Regions from separate parts of the Homo sapiens genome. Here region 2 is linked to region 1. Evidence: fine-mapped expression QTL. A gene starts in region 1. The other region holds a variant in brackets. All regions are shown on one strand. Distances are from middle to middle.

Region 1 (8,149 bases):
CCACAGACAGTGTGGCTCAGGGCAGCGGTTACCATGACATACCAGACACAGGATGCGCCCATTGCATGGCCAGATGGACTTCCTGCAACAACAAAGTGTCCGTCCATTTGAAAAGTGGTTAACTATCAAGATCAGAAATGAATAATAGAATAGCATATTCCCCATGAAAATTATGAGTAACTCAGAAAAAAAGACAAGACACAGGCTATATGTAATGTTTAGAAGTGGGTAGAAATAAGAAAAATTGAGTTAAATTGAGCCTGAGAAACACTGTCTCAAAAAATTTTTTTCCCAGATTTTCAGGTTCATTGAATTCCAGAAATCAATATACTCAAGGCTAATTAAGAACTCAGGCAGTTGCACCCAAATCTGCCACAGCCCTACTCATTCTTCAATATTTGGTTGTTTTTAATTGACAAGCAAAAGTATTAGGTTAATGCAAGAGTAATTGCGGTTTTTGCCATTGAAAGTAATGGCAAAAACCGCAATTACTTTTGCACCACCCTAATGCTTGTATTGGATCTTCAGTTGGCTTATTTTCCTTGGGCTGAGAAGTCAAACTCTAAAGGATATCATTGCTATGCCAGTGATTTGCTGATTGACTTACAAATGACTGCTGTGTACTAGCAGCTACTTCTATGCCTATCTTGTGGCCACTGCAGTGAGAATCTTTGTTTTAAAACAGAGGATGAGGAGAAGCTATAAAGACGGCATTAATCCTAGCAGAAAAAGCCTTTCTACTTCCAGAATGCCTTTTCCATGCTACTGAATTTTTTATTAGTTTCCTTAAATGTCCTCCTCGATTTTTCACCTGGTAGTTCATTCAAATTAAATACCAGTCTCTTATTTGTTAAACAAAGACAGACCTATTTCTTATCTGCAGGAATTTTCAGAGCCTTTTAAAAACTATGCCTTAAAAAATTGTAAATCTCCCCGAGAGATGCAGTCTTTCTTTCTTTTCTCTCTCTCTCTTTCCAGAAAATGTCTTATAAGGTGGAACACATGCCGGAAAGGACTGGAATTGACCACGATAACATTTCGGTGGTCTCAAATGTTACCCATCCAACCATTCATCCATTTATCACACTTTGGTTTCACAAAGATAAACTATGCATCATCCCTCCCCTGATGGAACACCCAGTCTAGGCAATCGGATATATAAAGAATTAGTTAATATCATTTAGTGTAATAAGCGATATAACAGATGTATGTATACTTCTATGGGAACAAAAAAGACATATTCAGAACACTCATTAAGAATTTACACATTCTCTACTACCCTTTACTCAAAGTTAGTTTCGAAGGATGTCAACTGGCGAGAATGTTATGCTATGTAAAATGATGAGGTACAATATAACACATTCTTATAAATTAAAATGTAATTTTTAAATATATGTTTCAAAAAACTTTTTAAAACAGTCTTAGAATCAACTATCACAATAAAGATTTTATACTCATACAGAATCTTACCTAGAATAAAAAAGAAGTGGCCCAAGAAGCCTACTTGTGTACAGAGAAAAAATATGTTTTAAAGAGATTGTTCTAGGGTTAGAAATAGTCTTTACTGGCTATAGTAACATTGAGAAGTCCTTACCTTTCTTACAGAAGACTTGTCTACTCCTCCCTCATTCGTGAGATACTCGGAAGACCTATAGTAACTTTGAAAGTTGCTTAGCAGCAGATTAACCAACATTTCTAAGATCTTAGTCTAGTTCCTTGAGAATTTGTTCTAGTTAACTGTTTCTTGTTTTAGTATCAAGTCATTATATTCTTCTGAAAAGTAAACACCAAATATTTAATCACTGGGGGAGTTTTCTCCCAATCTACCCTTTCATAAATAACAAAATGGAATTTGAGTATTTTTTTTGCTTTGCTTCCTCATTAGTAATTTTGATTGTTATGAAGTTTTAGCATCCTCACTCATGAGATTTTCTTTACTACCCTATATAATATCAGTTCCTAGATGATAACCCTGTGTAATGATTCTCTATTGGAAGATCTTCAGTAACTGGAGCCTGCTGTAATAGCTTACCTGGACCTGTTTCACATGTAGTAGGGAACTGTTCAAGGCATGGACTTGAGTGATTTGGGTAAATCTGAGTTTCTTGGACCCACCAGTAAGGTCGATGACCAAATAATATCCTGTATTTAAAGAATTATAAACATGCATATATATTTAAATACACAGCTATTATTTAATTGGAGATTAGCAATTCTTTCCTATAAAAAATGACTCAAGCGCAGGGTTAATTGTGAAAGTTCATGATTAAGAGACTTTGAAAAAACTTAGGTCTTGGTCTCTCACACATTATTAAAGGTGGTAGCCATTTGGTATTTTGGCACCCTGGTTTCCCATGAACATGGGGGCTTTTTTCCCTTGCAGGGAATGTCTTATGGGTGCTTTGGATACTTAGACTGGAAATATCAAAATTTGTCCCTAGAATTATCAATTTGTTCATTATCACGCTGCTCATGTAAGTAATTCTTAATCACAGAATATGTGTTACAGGGGTTTGGGAATTACTTATAAGTCATTAAAGTACACATTTCTGGCCTGGCGTGGTGGCTCACACCTGTAATCCCAGCACTTTAGGAAGCCGAAGTCGGTGGATCACCTGAGGTCGGGAGTTAGAGACCAGCCTGACCAACATAGAGAAACCCTGTCTCTACTAAAAATACAAAATTAGCTGGGTGTGGTGGCACATGCCTGTAATCCCAGCTACTCGGGAGGCTGAGGTGAGAGAATTGCTTGAACCTGGGAGGCAGAGGTTGCAGTGAGCCGAGATCACGCCATTGCACTCCATCCTGGGCAACAAGGGCAAAACTCTGTCTCAAAAAAAAAAAAAAAACAAAAACATATATATACATTTCTGTGCCTTTTAAAAGTTCTACTTATGAATCTGGTGTTTCAAGTTACCTGGTATTTTTGAAAGATTTTCCAAGTAAAACGATATACATCTGAAATGTGATCATTATGCCGAAGTCACAAATTTAAGGATAAATCTTAGGAAAAAATGAAATAAAACAGAAATCTTACCATTTAAATATAAGATTTAACCAATCCCCAATGACTGCTACCCATATCATCTTGGTTCCAACTGTCTGATTAAATTGAAAACAAAGTGGAAAATAAATGAAAAAGATATTCCTGGGGTCTCCAACATTGGACATAAAATTTAGAAAAGTGTAGTAAGCTCGGTAGTCCTTCTGCAAATGCTGAATTATGAGCACTCCATTCCTGTGAAGGAAATCCATCTTGAAAAAGAGGCAATTCTAAACATAGAGCAATTGGAGCTGAAGTGCTCTGATTCCCACCGTTTTTATACTGTGCCTTTGTGGCATGTCGAGCCATTACTGCAACATGTGATGCTGACCATCTGTGGAGAGGGCACACCAGCCCTCCTCTGCTGAATAGCTCATCTATTTATGATTTTAATTGGTGGCAAAGAGTGAAGTACATGCTGATCTGTGGCAATTCGAGGGGGAAATTTGGATAGAAACACAATGAATTTCTTATGCAACCTCCCTTTTGTGCGAACAGTTGGATCATGTTTGCTTGAAATTTTTTGTACAGTTCATTTCCTCCAAGGTCAGACATTAGCAATTTCTATGTTTGGTGAAAAGACTTTGCAAATAATTATTGCATGTCAAATAGCCCATAAAGCCCTGCATTTTAATTTAAGATAGGCTGTGGCTCTCTATTTTATTGGGTCTTTGAGGAAAATGGTTGAATAAATATCTGGGTATGAAAAATATATGATATGACAGATTATGTTCTGATCACTGATTTAAAATAAGAATAGTTCAATTTTCTTTATCCAAGAGAATGATAGAATATATATGGAACAGGGAAAGAAATGTGTTGTTTTTTGACTATAAGACAAGAAAGCAGAAATGAAAGTCATTTGGATAATAGAAATGTGTTAGGATCAAATTGTATCTTTTATTAACTAGAGAATACAGTTGAGAGGAATAGGGAATGATTCATGTGACAAAGATAGGAATAGACATCAAAGGGCTTTTGACCAATCAGGAAAATGGTTTGTTGAGAACAGAGTGTTAAACAGAAGTGGAAAGCACCAAACAAATGCTAAGAATGAACAGAAGGGTAGCGCAAAGAGGCTGTGGATCTAAGTCATAGGTCCATAATCTACGGCTGTGGACTATGACTAGACTATAGACCAGGACTCTGGTCCTGGACTATAGACTACGACTGGACCCTGGACTATGGACCAGGGTAGACTGAGAATGAACAGAAGGGTAGCACAAAGAGGCTATGGATCTAAGTCAGAGAGATGTTGGGTTTAGAGAGCTGGATTGTGTCTAGGATTAGTGGGAAAGCAACAAAGCCTCACAAGGTGGCCAGGGATGGATCTAGGTAACCTTACTTGTTATTTTGTCATTCAGATTTTTGTCTTTGCTTACCATGGCCTAAGTAAAGACAAAAGACTTCACTAGAGTCCTTCACAGGCTATAACTATCACTTTGAACTTCTCTTCGAGTTTTGTGTCCCATCATTTAACAGCACCATTGTTACTGGGCTTCAGTGTCTATTGGTACCTTACCTGGAAGAAATGCATTGACTGACCATTAACATCTTTTGGGGTGCTTTTTAAATTGCCATAACTGTGTTCCACCTGAGATCAGTTATATTTCTGGTAATGGAATTTGGGCATTGGTATTATTAAAATACTTCTCAAGTGGTTCCAATGTGGTATAAGGGGCTTAGAATCATTGCACTAAGGCAATTCATATAAGGAATTATCCTTGACTAATTAGAGTCTATGCTTCTGGCTTTTCTTTGTTTTGCATATTCAGGTTCTGTAATTTCCATAATCTCTTTAATGAGCCATGAGGAAGAGCATAACTTCCCTTTATTCTTTTTCTAAAAAGTGTTTGATCTACGTAATTCATAATACTCATTTTCTTCAGAAATGTCTTATCCTTAAATCAGGATGTGAATGATATCAAATACATTTTGTCTTCCACTTAAAAATTAAACTTCCTGCTCTTCAGCACCTCAGAGTCTGTGATTAGCCTTTCATCTATGGTAGTTAATTTAGAAAGATTTTCTCTCGAGAACTACCTGGTTCTGTAGACTGTGGGATAATTAAGTGAAGCAAAAGCATCTTGATTTCTTTCACCCTTTAACAGCATCTGCTAATCTGCTTATTCCTCGTAGTTCATCATTTTTAGTCTTTTCATATCTTAGCTTCTATGCATCCATCGGTGATGCCTTCTCTGACCAGCATCCTCACCACTCCTCTGACAATACTTTCTCTCACACACTCTTTTCTCCTAGGGGGTTGTTTGAGTCTGCTAGGGCTGCTATAACAAAATACCAGACTGGGTGGCTTACACAACAGAAATATAGGAAACTAGGAGTCTGAATCAACGCGTCGGTGGCGTTGATTTCTTCTGAGCCTCTGTCCTTGGCTTGCAGATGACTGTCTACTCTCTATGTCTTCACATGGTCTTCCCCGCTATATGGGTGTGTTCTAATCTCCTCTTTTTATAAGGATACCAGTCTTATTGGATTAAGGAAGATACTAATGACCTCATTTTAACTTAATCACCCCTTTAAAGACCCTATCACCAAACACAGTCATTTTGGGAGGTACTGGGGCTTAGGACTTCAACATGAATTTGAGGGAATACAGTTCAGCCCATAACCGGGAGTTAAACACAATTTATAATTATATATTTATGACAAGTGTATATATTTAGCATCTCTCTCCTGTACTACAGTATAAGCTCCATAAAACAAGGGGTCCTGTCCACTTTGTGCAACAGCCACAAGCACAGTTCCCATAACAGGCCCGTGTAGAAGCCAATTACCCATGAAGCTGGAAAAGTTCGCACGGGCGCCTAAGATGGTAGGTTGGGCCGGGCGCAGTGGCTCACGCCTGTAATCCCAGCACTTTGGGAGGCCGAGGTGGGCGGATCACTTGAGGTCAGGAGTTTAAGACCAGCCTGGCCAACATGGTAAAACACCATCTCTACTAAAAAAAAAATACAAAAATTAGCTGGGCATTGTGGTGGGCTACTGTAGTCCCAGCTACTCGGGAGGCTGAGGCAGGAGAATCGCTTGAAACCCGGGAGGTAGAGGTTGCAGTGAGCCAAGATCGTGCCACTGCACTCCAGCCTGGTCTACAGAGTGAGACTCTGTCAAAAAAAAAAGGCAGGTGGTTACTGATAGTTTAGAGTGCATTCACGAGTTTATTTTCTTTTTATTAAAGAGAGGGCCTATATAACAGGGGCTTTATAGAGGGGCCTATATAAAGCCATTTAACAGGGGCTTTAGATTTCACAAAACCTGGAACTGCCCCTGGGCCCATCATAGTTATTTAGTAAATGTTTATTGAGTGAATGAATTATTGAACAAAGTTGATATGAGTACTAAATTATAAAGAGCCTGTGTTTTAAAACTATGTTATTTGGTTAGTGCAAACTCAAAATGCATTTCTCCACAGAGATCATGTTATATAGTGGCAATGTCAAGAAAGTGTATTTAAGGTGGAGAAAATATATATAATGTGTATTCTAGAAAGGGCTAATATATTTGTATGTGTATATGTGTGTGTGTGTACATACATATATAAATATGTATGCAGATGTGTGTATATGTATATATACATATATTAGCCCTTTGTGTGTGTGTGCATATATGTATATATACAATTATATATACATATATAACATATATACACACACATATATACACATATATGTACACACACACAAACACACACATCTGCTTATGATTAAATAGAAGAATAAACAATTAAAAAATATTTTGGCCAAGCATGGTACCTCACATCTGTAATCCCAGCACTTTGGGAAGCCATAGTGGGAGGATCACTTGAAGCCAGGAGCTTGAGACCACCTGGGAAACGAAGCAATACCCCACCTCTATTTAGTATATATTTATTTTATATACATTTATTACATGTGATAAATTATATAATTTATCACATGTAATAAATTATATAATTTATTGCATGTAATAAATTATATATATTTATCACATGTAATAAATTATATAATTTATTTATATATAAAAATACATAATAAATATATATCTATTTTTATATATTTATATTTATATAAAAATATATATGTAATAAATAAATATTTATTATATGTAATAGATATTTATTATATGTAATAGATATATTTATTATATGTAATAGATATATTTATTATATGTAATAAATTTATATATTTATTATATATAAAATAAATATATTTTTAAATTCTGTAAAGGAAAGAAGAGAAGAGAGTAGAGGGAACAGGGTTAAAAAGTAGACTTCTTTGAACATACTTATTTTATAGATGTGACTTTGAAACCATGTAAATATTTTACATAACTATACAACAAAATTAAAATTAAGATGTGATTCATACAAAATTTTAAAAACGAAAGAAGTGAAAACACCACTTGATCCATTATACTGGTGAGCTATTCTTCCCAGCACTTACATGTATTTTATGATTTGTTCCTGTGGGAAATCTCTTTCTACACATTTCTTTAGTCCTCCTCATCTACCGTCTGCCACTCGAGTTGCCACGGCTTAGGGTGGGGATGTTCCTGTATCCTATGTGGGCCCCAGCAGTAGGGAGATAGAGGAAGTTGGTTCTTTCTGACACTAGTAATCTTCCAGTGGAGCTCTTCCCTCCAATGACACAGCCTGCCTGACAAGCTGGGTCATTTCAAAGCCAAGGTTGTTAGAGTTTAAGATCTGTCCAAAATCAGTTTACCAAATGATGGAACAAAGTCACATTCAACCTACCCAGACCAAGATCCAAAAGAGGGTAGATCCACCTGACTCATCCTCTTTTTGAAGTTGTCTTTCCTAAAGTGTGACCTGTGGACCACCTTCCTCCTGTCACCTGCATGCAATTTCCAGGCCCACTCCAGATCACAGAATGAGACATTTTGGAAATTAAATCCAGAAAGCGTTTTAGTAAGGTTTCCACATGGTTTCTATACACATTAATTTTTAGAAGCGCTGTCTTCATTCATCATTCCCTTGAAAGGTACCCCTCCTGTACCTCCTGTGCAGAGCTGGCCTCTTCTTGTACCACTTTCTCAACTTCTACCTTAAGTCATTTTTTTTTCATTTGCCTTATTTGGGGTTCTGTATTA
Region 2 (8,144 bases), 35 kb after region 1:
ATTGAATCTATAAATTACCTTGGGCAACATGGCCATTTTCATGATATTGATTCTTCCTACCCAGGAGCATGGAATGTTCTTCCATTTCTTTGTGTCCTCTTTTATTTCACTGAGCAGTGGTTGTAGTTCTCCTTGAAGAGGTCCTTCACATCCCTTGTAAGTTGGATTCCTAGGTATTTTATTCTCTTTGAAGCAATTGTGAATGGGAGTTCACTCATGATTTGGCTCTCTGTTTGTCTGTTATTGGTGTATAAAAATGCTTGTGATTTTTGCACATTGATTTTGCATCCTGAGAGTTTGCTGAAGTTGCTTATCAGCTTAAGGAGATTTTGGGCTGAGACGATGGGGTTTTCTAGATATACAATCATGTCATCTGCAAACAGGGACAATTTGAGTTCCTCTTTTCCTAATTGAATGCCCTTTATTTCCTTCTTCTGCCTGATTGCCCTGGCCAGAACTTCCAACACTATGTTGAATAGGAGTGGTAGGAGAGGGCATCCCTGTCTTGTGCCGGTTTTCAAAGGGAATGCTTCCAGTTTTTGTCCATTCCATATGATATTGGCTGTGGGTTTGTCATAGATAGCTCTTATTATTTTGAGATACATCCCATCAATACCTAATTTATTGAGAGTTTTTAGCATGAAGGGTTGTTGAATTTTGTCAAAGGCCTTTTCCGCATCTATTGAGATAATTATGTGGTTTTTGTCTTTGGTTCTGTTTATATGCTGGATTACGTTTATTGATTTTCGTATGTTGAACCAGCCTTGCATCCCAGGGATGAAACCCACTTGATCATGGTGGATAAGCTTTTTGATGTGCTGCTGGATTCAGTTTGCCAGTATTTTATTGAGGATTTTTGCATCAATGTTCATCAAGGATATTGGTCTAAAATTCTCTTTTTTTGTTGTGTCTCTGCCAGGCTTTGGTATCAGGATGATGCTGGCCTCATAGAATGAGTTAGGGAGGATTCCCTCTTTTTCTATTGACTGGAATAGTTTCAGAAGGAATGGTACCAGCTCCTCCTTGTACCTCTGGTAGAATTCAGCTGTGAATCCATCTGGTCCTGGACTTTTTTTGGTTGGTAAGCTATTAATTATTGCCTCAATTTCAGAGCCTGTTATTGGCCTATTCAGAGATTCAACTTCTTCCTTGTTTAGTCTTGGGAGAGTGTATGTGTCGAGGAATTTATCCATTTCTTCTAGATTTTCTAGTTTATTTGCATAGAGGTGTTTGTAGTATTCTCTGATGGTAGTTTGTATTTCTGTGGGATCGGTGGTGATATCCCCTTTATCATTTTTTATTGCGTCTATTTGATTCTTCTCTCTTTTCTTCTTAATTAGTCTTGCTAGCTGTCTATCAATTTTGTTGATCTTTTCAAAAAGCCAGCTCCTGGATTCATTGATTTTTTTGAAGGGTTTTTTGTGTCTCTATTTCCTTCAGTTCTGCTCTGATCTTAGTTATTTCTTGCCTTTTGCTAGCTTTTGAATGTGTTTGCTCTTGCTTTTCTAGTTCTTTGAATTGTGATGTTAGGGTGTCAATTTTGGATCTTTCCTGCTTTCTCTTGTGGGCATTTAGTGCTATAAATTTCCCTCTACACACTGCTTTGAATGTGTCCCAGAGATTCTGGTATGTTGTGTCTTTGTTCTCATTGGTTACAAAGAACATCTTTATTTCTGCCTTCATTTCGTTATGTACCCAGTAGTCATTCAGGAGCAGGTTGTTCAGTTTCCATGTAGTTGAGTGGTTTTGAGTGAGTTTCTTAATCCTGCGTTCTAGTTTGGTTGCACTGTGGTCTGAGAGACAGTTTGTTATAATTTCTGTTCTTTTACATTTGCTGAGGAGTGCTTTACTTCCAAGTATGTGGTCAATTTTGGAATAGGTGTGGTGTGGTGCTGAAAAAAATGTATATTCTGTTGATTTGGGGTGGAGAGTTCTGTAGATGTCTATTAGGTCTGCTTGGTGCAGAGCTGAGTTCAATTCCTGGATATCCTTGTTAACTTTCTGTCTCGTTGATCTGTCTAATGTTGACAGTGGGGTGTTAAAGTCTCCCATTATTATTGTGGACTTGCTTTATGAATCTGGGTGCTCCTGTATTGGGTGCATATATATTTAGGATAGTTAGTTCTTCTTGTTGAATTGATCCCTTTACCATTATGTAATGGCCTTCTTTGTCTCTTTTGATCTTTGTTGTTTTAAAGTCTGTTTTATTCGAGACTAGGATTGCAATCCTTGCCTTTTTTTGTTTTCCATTTGCTTGGTAGATCTTCCTCCATCCCTTTATTTTGAGCCTATGTGTGTTTCTGCATGTGAGATGGGTTTCCTGAATACAGCACACTGATGGGTCTTGACTCTTTATCCAATTTGCCAGTCTGTGCCTTTTAATTGGAGCATTTAGCCCATTTACATTTAAAGTTAATATTGTCATGTGTGAATTTGGTCCTGTCATTATGATGTTAGCTGGTTATTTTGCTCGTTAGTTGATGCAGTTTCTTCCTAGCCTTGATGGCCTTTACATTTTGGCATGTTTTTGCAGTGTATGCCACATTTTCTTAATCTAGTCTATCATTGTTGGACATTTGGGTTGGTTCCAAGTCTTTGCTATTGTGAATAGTGCTGCAATAAACATACATGTGCATGTGTCTTTATAGCAGCATGATTTATAATCCTTTGGGTATATACTCAGTAATGGGATGGCTGGGTCAAATGGTATTTCTAGTTCTAGATCCCTGAGGAATCGCCACACCGACTTCCACAATGGTTGAACTAGTTTACAGTCCCACCAACAGTGTAAAAGTGTTCCTATTTCTCCACATCCTCTCCAGCACCTGGGTTGTTTCCTGACTTTTTAATGATTGCCGTTCTAACTGGTGTGAGATGGTATCTCATTGTGGTTTTGATTTGCATTTCTCTGATGGCCAGTGATGATGAGCATTTTTTCATGTGTTTTTTGGCTGCATAAATGTCTTCTTTTGACAAGTGTCTGTTCATATCCTTCGCCCACTTTTTGATGTGGTTGTTTTTTTCTTGTAAATTTGTTTGAGTTCGTTGTAGATTCTGGATATTAGCCCTTTGTCAGATGGTAGGTGGCAAAAATTTTCTCCCATTCTGTAGGTTGCCTGTTCACTTTGATGGTGGTTTCTTTTGCTGTGCAGAAGCTCTTTAGTTTAATTAGATCCCATTTGTCAATTTTGGCTTTTGTTGCCATTGCTTTTGGTGTTTTAGACATGAAATCCTTGCCCATGCCTATGTCCTGAATGGTATTGCCTAGGTTTTCTTCTAGGGTTTTTATGGTTTTAGGTCTGACATGTAAGTCTTTAATCCATCTTGAATTAATTTTTGTATAAGGTGTAAGGAAGGGATCCAGTTTCAGCTTTCTACATATGGCTAGCCAGTTTTCCCAGCACCATTTATTAAATAGGGAATCCTTTCCCCATTGCTTGTTTTTGTCAGGTTTGTCAAAGATCAGATAGTTGTAGATATGCGGGATTATTTCTGAGGGCTCTGTTCTGTTCCATTGGTCTATATCTATCTCCGTTTTGGTACCAGTACCATGCTGTTTTGGTTACTGTAGCCTTGTAGGATAGTTTGAAGTCAGGTAGCGTGATGCCTCTGGCTTTGTTCTTTTGGCTTAGGATTGACTTGGCAATGTGGGCTCTTTTTTGGTTCCATATGAACTTTAAAGTAGTTTTTTCCAATTTTGTGAAGAAAGTCATTGGTAGCTTGATGGGGATGGCATTGAATCTATAAATTACCTTGGGCAATATGGCCATTTTCACAATGTTGATTCTTCCTACCCATGAGCATGGAATGTTCTTCCATTTCTTTGTGTCCTCTTTTATTTCATTGAGCAGTGGTTTGTAGTTCTCCTTGAAGAGGTCCTTCACATCCCTTGTAAGTTGGATTCCTAGGTATTTTATTCTCTTTGAAGCAATTGTGAATGGGAGTTCACTCATGATTTGGCTCTCTGTTTGTCTGTTATTGGTGTATATAAGAATGCTTGTGATGTTTGCACATTGATTTTGTATCTTGAGACTTTGCTGAAGTTGCTTATCAGCTTAAGGAGATTTTGGGCTGAGACAGTGGGGTTTTCTAGATATACAATCATGTCATCTGCAAACAGGGACAATTTGACTTCCTCTTTTCCTAATTGAATGCCCTTTATTTCCTTCTCCTGCCTGATTGCCCTGGCCAGAACTTCTAACACTATGTTGAATAGGAGTGGTGAGAGGACATTCCTGTCTTGTGCCAGTTTTCAAAGGGAATGCTTCCAGTTTTTGTCCATTCAGTATGATATTGGCTGTGGGTTTGTCAGAGATATCCTACCATCCCCTAATTTGGGTTGATCTCATTGGTGTCTTGATTGCCTGTCTCTCTTCTTGGAATTGATCTGTGTTCCTCATCTCCCAGGCTCTGCTTGACCCCCTCATAGGCCTGCTGTGTTCTGTTGCCACCCAAATCCAGAGGAAAAAGACATCTAAGTCCCACTGCTGTTGTCTACCAGATAACTCTGACTTCAGGCAAGCAGCTGAACCCACCTTGGACTCCGTCTGTTTCTGTGACACCAGGGGTTATACTGGATCATCTCTAGGGTCTCCTAGAATTTGGAAACTCCTCTAGGAACCAAGGAGCCTCTTCCTTGTCTGTCTCCACCCATCCATCTTTTTTCTGACTGTTTCAAGCTAATAATCATGAATGCAAAGTGCTGTGACATGCAGGTAGAACTCCATCCATTTCAAAAGAAAAACATGTAAAGGTAAGAGCACTTTATTCTTATTTGAACCACACTGTATTGTTGATTACCGAGTGTGAAGGTAGTATGTTCAGAGTCTTGTTTTATGCCTTTGTAGCTGTGTTGCCAGCATTTGAAGGTAACTCCTCCACATAAGCGGCAGGAAAATGGCCTTTTTTCCCATTCAAAGATCCAAACCACCA[T/C]CCTCCTTCTTTTTTCTCGTGTATAATCACAATGTCACCTGTGAAAATACAGTTAGACAAATGGGTCTCTGTGATGTGAACACATGCCTCAGCCCGATTGATAAGAGTTTTAAGGAGGTTCTGCTTCAAGGATTTACTTGGTAGTGTCATTTTCTGCACTTGATTCAGATGAAGCCAAATGTATCGAACACCTGTGTATAAAGCAGGCATAATCCAGAGGATACTAAAAAGAGTAAGATAATGAACAACTGAGATATATCATAAAATAATTGCTTAAAGACAGGATTGGCTGGGCGTGGTGGGTGACGCCTGTAATCCCAGCACTTTGGGAGGCCAAGGTGGGTGGATCACAAGGTCAGGAGTTTCGAGACCAGCCTGACCAACATGGTGAAACCCCTTCTCTGCTAAAAATACAAAAATTAGCTGGGTGTGGTGGCGCACGCCTGTAATACCAGCTACTCAGGAGGCTGAGGCAGGAGAATCCTTGAACCCGGGAGGCAGAGGTTGCAGTGAGCTGAGATCATGCCACTGCACTCTAGCCTGGGCAACAGCAACAGGGCAAGACTCTGTCTCAGAAAAAAAAAAACAGGATCACAGCCAGGCACGGTGGCTGACAGCTGTAATCCCAGCACGTTGGGAGGCCGCGATGGGCAGATTAGGCAGATTACTTGAGGTCAAGAGGTTGAGACCAGCCTGGCCAACATGGTGAAACCCCGTCTCTACTAAAAATACAAAAATTAGCCAGGCATGGTGGCACACGCCTGTAGTCCCAGCTATTTGGGAGACTGAGGCAGGAGAATCACTTGAATCCAGGAGACGGAGGTTGCAGTGAGCTTGGGAGACTGAGGCAGGAGAATCACTTGAATCCAGGAGACGGAGGTTGCAGTGAGCTAAGATCACACCACTGTACTGCAGCCTGGGTGACAGAGCAAGACTCTGCCTCAAAAAAAAAAATAAAAAAAGATCACGTTGGATCATATATCCTTATGCTGCCTGGCTCACTTTCTATTTCTATGTAGCTGATGGATTGTCACCAAACTCTTTCTTGGTGTCCGTACTTTGAGGGTTTCACATGCTGGTGTTTTTGATTGTTTGGCGTGTTGGCTGCTATAAGTATGTCTCACCAACAGTCTTTTCTTAAGATCAAGACAATGTCTCTGCATTATCCCTGATTTCACAGGCCAAAAGTTTAACTCACTCACAGCTTTGCACAGAAATGTAACTCCCCATTCAAAATGTAACTCCCCATTCAACAACTTAGACAACTTTAATACAACATCAATTTGGAGACAATATTTTTTAAAGCAATGATTCAAATAAAGAGAATTCCATAGAGAATTGGACAAGAAACATGGCTCTTGTCATAAAAGTAGAAAGATCTGCCCCCTTCAGGATCATCTGCCCCCGTCAGGATCCAAGAGCTACTTTTTATTTGGCATCATTCTGAGGTGATTTTTCAGTCTTCCTTTCACTCTTTTCCTCAGCAACTTTCTTTCTAAGACAAAGGAAATTATTAACTCCTTTTCTATCTTTTCTACATTTTCTTAGTCATAAATCACTATTCTTAAAGGACATTATTCTCGGTCTCTAAGTTCTCCCTCGTCAGTAAATTGACATAATCTATTAACAAGAATTCAAACAAATAATGATTTCAAATTGTATTGCCAGCTTCCCTAAGGCTCCAACGTCGTGTTTCATTTAAAGAAACTGCTTAGAATATAAAGTATAAGTAGGCTTTGCAACCAACAGAGAACTGAAAACAAGATAATCAATTTATTGTGAATGATGTAACTTAAATGCTGCATCCATGGGTTCTAGGTGGCATCTGGGAAGTATGTCTGTCTTTTATTCACATAGGAAGAAAAGTAATTGCCTGGAGAGATATGACTGGCAAATGCTGCAAAGGAAACACCCAATAAATAGCAAATGTGTGGTGTCCCTGTCGTTTGGCTACAAAATGTATCTTGATTTTCCATTGGCTCTGGGAGCCATGTCCTTGTCGTGGATAATATTCTTTCTCCCATAACGTTACTCTTTCTCACTAACCCTTCCGTTTCCAGATCTCTGCATTAGCGCTAACATTCAAACATGGTTTCTAACTGGACACATAAAGAAGGTTGAGGCTGGAGACTTTCTTCTTTAATAATGTTGTGGTTTACATTATAAAGCCACTACGTAATACCTTTCCATGTTAAGTAAAACTCTGTGACACAAAGAAGGGGATCTCACTCTTTAGACTGGCTGTAAAAAGCTTTTCTGAGAAGTAAGTGAGACCAGCACTAAGCTGGGAGTCAGCTGACCTAGGTTCTAGAATTTGCACTTACTTACACTAAGTTGAGAGAGGAGGTCACTTCACATTCCTGAATGTCTAGCTTCTAAAAAATAAAAAGGTGGGGTACATCTCTAATCACTTTCCATCACTGACATTCTACCCTAGTGTGCACTGTGATTAGGAGCATGACTGTGTTTCCAAGTTCAAATCTTGTGTTGCCACAGCCTGTGACATTAGCCAAAGCACCTAACCTTCCTGTGTATCAGTCTCCTCTGCTATGAAATGGGAATACCAATAAAACCCTCCAAGGGTTTCATGAATATTAAATTGGACAATAGGCCTGCAACAATGTCTGACACACAGTAAACAGAATAAGCGTTAGCTATTATCATTATGCGAGCTTTTGTTTTAGATGTGCTTATCTTTCAAGAAGGGTGAACTGATTTGACATGGTAGTAACTCTTAAGGCTGCCACACTAAGACAGGGTTTTATTCATGCTAAGAATCTCAATATGGGAAGGCAATTAAAATATTTGAGAATGATTCTTACCCTTTTCCAAATTCAACTCATCATCTTGCCTGGCTTGAAAAGAATACAAGGCCTTGCAAAGTCTGCTGCTGAGCTGGGCTGCACCAGGGGCTGAAATAGATAAAGCTGTAATTAGTATGCTGTGTTAGCAGGCAAATGAATATGAGCTGAAGCTCTTTGGTTATTTAACAGTGTGATGCAGAGTTTCAATATATTAAATTTTTCTCAAAAGGAAAGTTTGTAATTTTATATAATGTTCATTCCTTGATTCAATAACCACTTATGATGCACTTTCTATATGTATGGACTGCATATGTTATATAACCAAAAACTATATTATAATACATGAAATAGCAAGTCTAGAGAAAAACATCATTGTATAATAATAGTAATTGCATGCATGTTTTGGAA

Alleles and levels. Alleles are on the strand shown, and positions count from the first base shown. SD is a standard deviation of normalised expression in the study named.
For the expression in minor salivary gland of the gene that starts at base 3,296 in region 1, allele T in region 2 goes with a lower level than allele C (large effect, 0.94 SD a copy in GTEx).

Evidence for each region.
Region 2: its variant is fine-mapped to the expression of G6PC2 in minor salivary gland (GTEx, PIP above 0.99). The same link has a PIP of 0.9 or more in breast, lung, stomach and sun-exposed skin.

The regions. Positions count from the first base shown.
Region 1 is chr2:168,896,438-168,904,586 of GRCh38, reverse strand. It overlaps G6PC2 (glucose-6-phosphatase catalytic subunit 2), which reads right to left and starts at 3,296. Exons shown (of 5, transcript NM_021176.3): 1 at 3,038-3,296; 2 at 2,033-2,142; 3 at 1-82. The coding sequence starts at 3,255.
Region 2 is chr2:168,861,660-168,869,803 of GRCh38, reverse strand. NOSTRIN (nitric oxide synthase trafficking) reads right to left here. Exons shown (of 16, transcript NM_001039724.4): 15 at 7,755-7,844; 16 at 4,290-4,970. The coding sequence ends at 4,834. It also overlaps a transcript of SPC25 not described here. Among named protein-coding and RNA genes, the nearest start is that of SPC25, 25 kb to the left of the region's middle. The variant T/C (reference allele first, on the strand shown) is at 4,933.